Regions from separate parts of the Homo sapiens genome. Here region 2 is linked to region 1. A link means that fine-mapping ties the variant in region 1 to the expression of a gene that starts in the linked region. Tissue or cell type: monocytes after LPS. Region 1 holds a variant in brackets; the other region holds the start of a gene. All regions are shown on one strand. Distances are between the middles of the regions.

Region 1 (2,849 bases):
TTCACTTGAGGGTCTATGTGGAGAGAATATCATGGCAGATAGGAAGAAGAGAGCCAAGCTACACCACGCCCACAGGCTTAGTGCTCCTGCTTAGATGTGGCAGATGTCCTTCTGTTCACACAGCCAGGCTGAACATCAGTGGCAGGGTTAATCTGTGAATAACTGTACTATCCGCCATAGTAGGGCAGGGTGGGTGATAGGTCTTGCAAAAGTCAACATTCTGTATAATTTGTAATAAAACACAACACAAGCACAGGTAATTTCAGATAGTTTTAAATTATATCCTTCATATCTGCACTTCTACTGCATATAGATTGGATAGTTAATAAAAATCTGTTAAAATGGGGAAGGAAGGACGAAGAGAGGGAGGGAGGAAAGGAGGAGTAGGTGAAAGGCACCCATGTTTAGTGTTTACGATACATGATGGACACACATTGTTTTTAATGTTCTGGAGATCATCTGCTATCTTTATACAATCACCAAGTGACATATACTTGTATATCAGTACTATAATATTTCTTCTCAAAAAAGAAAGTTTCTGTAAGGTTCCTAATATTTTGATGTATAATGAATACATGATGTATAGAGAACACAATAAAGCATCTCTCTGTTCCAGGCAGCAGACTGGAAAAACATCAAGTTAAACGGCAATTTCAAGCAGCAATCATCCCTTATCCTCTCAAGTATATCCCAAGAAGTCCTAATCCCCACTATTGAGGTCTATGAACCTTTCAACTCTAATAAAGAAACCAAACTTCTCCTAAGACAACACTCCAAGTGAATCACTGATTTCTTCATTACTATGAAGAAAGAGGACTTCATGATAAAGCCTGAAATGTTGCTTTATTTCAACCATTCTTGTGGACAACTTTAAACTGTTGCCTACACACGTGGTCTCGAAATTCTGCTGAGTGCCGTATCAAAACATAAAAAGATGTCACTGAGTCCAAGTGTAAAGTGTCCACAATCTGTTGAGAAAATCACATAACCTTTTACTCCTAGGTGTTGTAAAAGTATTTACAGCCATATGTCTTCTCAATAATGGCACAAGTTCAGATGTCAGACACCACAGATAACAAAAGCAGAAAAACAGGGATGCGGGGACCCTACTAGCCAAAATTGGACAATATAAAATTAATCTTTAGTTGCCCTCAGACTCCCAATGTAAAACTACTTATTTGAGAGGCAGTATACATCTTAAACATAAAATGAGACTGTCTCTCATCACCCCCCTTAAATACTTCCTAGACAGTTCTCCACCCCTCCCCAGGCCAATGTACCAAGAATATCAACATAAAAGGTCTTCTTTTCCATGAATAGGACAAGCAAAGACCGTACTATATAAAATTCATGCTTTATACATTCAGAAAATACACACACTAGTTAAAGAGTACATGGAAGTAAACAGTTTTCTGCTCTTGCAATAGAGATTTTAAAATTCAAGAACAGCATAAATTTTCTTATGA[C/T]AGTAATGAATGATGTGGGTGAGACAACACTGTTTTTTCTAATGAAACAAAGAGTATGAGTTAACAATGCTGAGGTTAAGGTACTAATTTCTTACCTTAGGAGCCAGGGCTTTCCCGCTGTCTTCATGGGATGCATGTATGTTTGGCTGAAGAACTGAAGCAACCAACAAGGCCAGCCAGCCTGTACATACTCCCTTCCGCAGAACCTCTGTTGTGGCAGTAGACAGAAATTCCACAATGTTGAAGACAAAATGGAGCTTTCCTGGGTGAAATAAACTTGAGCTGCAAAGATACACAGACAAGTTTTGAACTCGATATCAGTACTACTACACATATGGGTCAAACCAATCCTTTTATTCAGTTTAGAAATATTTCCTTATAGGCTCTAATCTACCTTCCAAATCCTCACAGAGGAAAGCCATTATTACGTAATTAAAAACTGCCCCCAACCTTCACACTCTCACACCCTACATTTTGTTATTCAAGAAAGTTTCCAATTTTATTTGCTTGCACTAGGACTAGATGATATTTATAAAATCTAATATGCCCTAAGGATCTTCATGTAAAGGATTCATTCACTCAATATTTATTATAAAGATGTGAAGAAATGGGGATAAATTCTAACAAATATCCATACATTATCTACTGGTAAGATCATAAAACTTGAAAGTGACTGAAGTATACACCCAGAAAGGAGAAAACTAAAAATTCAAAGTAAAAACATCTTTAAAAGACATCCCTACAAAAGTAGATTTCTTTTCACATTACACGGTAAATAATGCGAAAGAACTTGAGTTCATTCTTAATTCCCCTTTCAACCAAAAGAATGGTGCACCTTCTTGTATTATTACTGAAAGGCAAAACAGAGAGCCAGACGGGAAAACGGTAGAGGCTGTGCAATGGAATGAAGGCCACAGGGAGAATCCTATAAGCCAGTGCTCATCAAATATTCTTTTTTTTTATTTTTTTGAGACAGGGTATCACTGTCGCCCAGGCTGGAGTGCAGTGGCTCGATCTTGGCTCACTGCAAGCTCCGCCTCCCGGGTTCACGCCATTCTCCCACCTCAGCCTCCCAAGTAGCTGGGACTACAGGCGCCTGCCACCACGCCCGGCTAATTTTTTGTATTTTTAGTAGAGACGGGGTTTCACCGTGTTAGCCAGGATGGTCTTGATCTCCTGACCTCATGATCCGCCCGCCTCGGCCTCCCAAAGTGCTGGGATTACAGGAGTGAGTCACCACGCCCGGACTCATCAAATGTTTTATAGTGGAACTTTTCTGTCTCCCCTGCCTCCGGCTGCCACTCAGTGAAGGTGGCTGGGCACACGGACACAGGAAGCATGTGGAGGAGCCTGAGACTCCTAAGTGGGGAAACATAGTACTGG
Region 2 (2,674 bases), 24 kb after region 1:
GAACAAAACTTGAGCCACAGTATCATTCACAACAGTCTTAAATAGCTTTTGGTTTCCTCTTTTTAAAAAAAGATAAAAGTAAAAACTATATTAAAATGATAGGATTCTTGGTTCTTATTTGATCCTAACGCTAAACAAACTAATCATAGTACTAAAGGTAACTGAAGCACATACTCTCCTTCATTATTTAATGCAAATCAAAAATATGTGAGTGTATGGGCATATATACAAACGGGTGCATATAACGAAAAAATATTTCCAATCCACTTAAACATTTTACTAACACGTTTTTCCGCAAGAGATAAGCAGTAGTAAAACAAACGACACTCACAGATTTTTTTCCATACTCATCTAACGGCTAAAATTGGTGGGCTGTCAATTTGCAGAGACAGATTTAAACTGAAACCCAAACCAAAAGCTTGGCTTTCGGTGAATGAACCGCCCAGAACGGCACCTGGCATGAAACTGGTACTCGATAAGTTATCTGAATGAGTGAATAAACAATATGAAAACACTACACATTGACAGCTCACAGAAAACGGTGGAAACGATAATGAAAACCTTACTACAGCTAAAATTTCTATCACTTCCCATGAAACACACATCCTGAGGGCTTCCCAGGATCAATCAACCCCTCATCCCTGCTACTGCCCCACAATCCGGCACCACCTTCCCACGACTCTCAGCGGAGGCCCGGGCCCCAGCAGCCCCGGAAGCGGCGCGGAGGCGGTGGGCAGAGCTCACGGCCGCGGGCAGAACTCACGGCCGCGTCCCGCCGGGTGGGCGCTCGGAACGTCCCGGGTTCCCCGGAGCGCGCCGCCCCAACCCGGCATGTTCCCCAGTTCCCCGCGTCCCCGAGTGCGGTTTCCCTAGGCCTGGAAAGCGCCTAGAACCAAAGGCAGAACATGAGGAGAGACCCCACGCCGCCCAGGGGCCTCCCGCGGCAGAGGCCGACGCCGAGCCCAAGGACACGCTCCCGGGGACACCAAAGCCAAAGGCCAAAGGCCAAGTCCGAGCCCCAGCCCGCGCCCGCGGCGACCCCCGGAGGCCGAAGGGCGTGGGAACCACGGGCGCAAGCCGGCTGCCCACCCCCGCCCCGGGCCGCCTCTCCCAGGAGATTAGTGCAGGGCGAGCGGCCGGAATCCGGGAACCGTAGCCGACAGGCAGCTTACCCACGCCGCGCCAGCCGGGCACGAACCTGCACAACGCGACTTCCACCAACCTTGCGCCAGCGCGCACTGACGCAGCGCCCATGCTCGGTACCCAGGACCAATAGAAAGCTCCGAAGGGGACCTGGGCCAATCACATTGCGCCGCCCTGAGTCGTGCTCCCGCCCCGCGTTTGCTACGGAGGCCCACGACGCCCAGGCGCTTCCGCGACCACCCGGAGTGATTGCCCGGCAGAGCGCGGTAGGTGTCAACGCGGGGTCTCCGCGCAGTTGGTCCGGCTGGGTGTCAAAGACCTGGCCGGCTTTCTCCTCAGGCTGCGCCGCCCGGCCCGTGTCTCAGCGCAGGTCCCCGGGGCGCCGAGTTTGGGGGTGCTCGCCCCGCGGGTCCCTTTCATTCCTAGGAAAACGCGCCGCGGGGCCTCCCGTCTGTCTGTCTTGCACACACGTGTTGCCAAATCCCCCCGCACCGTCTTTAGATCTGGACTGGCCGCCCCACCTTCTCCCTTCATTGATCTATGTTTTGCTTTTTCTTTTCCTACCTTGTTTCCATTGACAAAGTAGACCCTTTCCTTCAACACTAACCTTCTCCCGACACCGAGGGGAAACCAACAGCTTAGGGCCTTTCCAGCGCGTTTTTACCCTTGCCTTGCTCTAACCTCGCCTAATTTTGCCCACTTTACCTGTTCTTTGATTTCTATCCAAATGCAATTTCTTCCTTCAACCAACATTTAAGGGCCACCCTTAAGAGCTACATTGCCTGAGTTTGAACCCTAGCTCTGCCACTTAACCACCTGCATAAACTGGGCAAAGTAACTTTGTGCTTCAACTTCTTCCTCGTGTAAAATGATAGTAAAAGTACTGAATCTGTGTAAGTTAATAGAATACCTACAACAGTGTTTAGCAAGTAATAGCGATTGTTATTGTTCAATGTCAGCCACTCTTCTAACTCTAGGATGCAGAGACTTTGCCCCTCTGGTGTTTATATGTTAACCATCCTTTTTTTTTTTTTTTTTTTTTTTCCAGATACTCGTTTGTAGTTTCATAAACATTGATGTTGGGTCAATCATGTTCTCAATGTATTTAACCATGTGTTTTTAAATTTTTTAATTTAGTTATCAAATTGAGAATCTGATGGTATGGCATTAATCACCTTGAGGAAGAACCTTTATCGTTTATCTGATTTTCAGATGCATAGAGCTCTGGCTGCTTTAAAAAATAAACCTCTAAATCATGTTCACAAGGTAGTCAAGGAGCGTCTGTGCCCTTGGTTGTGTTCACGACAACCTGAGCCTTTCGGGGTCAAATTCCATCATGCCCATTGTAAAAAGTTTCATTCGAAAAATGGAAATGACCTTCATCCACTCGGTGGACCAGTGTTCTCTCAAGTATCTGACTGCGACAGGCTTGAACAAAATGTTAAAAATGAGGAGAGTCAGATGTTTTACAGGAGACTGAGCAACTTGACTTCATCAGAAGAAGTGCTAAGTTTTATAAGCACGATGGAAA

The links. PIP is the estimated chance that this variant, and not a neighbour inherited with it, causes the effect.
Region 2: it holds the start of MTRR, and the variant in region 1 is fine-mapped to the expression of MTRR in monocytes after LPS (Fairfax 2014, PIP 0.95). The same link has a PIP of 0.9 or more in B cells, NK cells and monocytes after interferon gamma.

Annotation. Positions count from the first base shown.
Region 1 is chr5:7,891,626-7,894,474 of GRCh38, reverse strand. MTRR (5-methyltetrahydrofolate-homocysteine methyltransferase reductase) reads right to left here. Exons shown (of 15, transcript NM_002454.3): 11 at 1,562-1,748. Among named protein-coding and RNA genes, the nearest start is that of MTRR, 24 kb to the right of the region's middle. The variant C/T (reference allele first, on the strand shown) is at 1,467.
Region 2 is chr5:7,867,714-7,870,387 of GRCh38, reverse strand. It overlaps MTRR (5-methyltetrahydrofolate-homocysteine methyltransferase reductase), which reads right to left and starts at 1,240. Exons shown (of 15, transcript NM_002454.3): 1 at 1,173-1,240. It overlaps FASTKD3 (FAST kinase domains 3), which reads left to right and starts at 1,357. Exons shown (of 7, transcript NM_024091.4): 1 at 1,357-1,409; 2 at 2,192-2,674. The coding sequence starts at 2,305. RefSeq lists silencers at 738-787, 848-897, 908-1,347.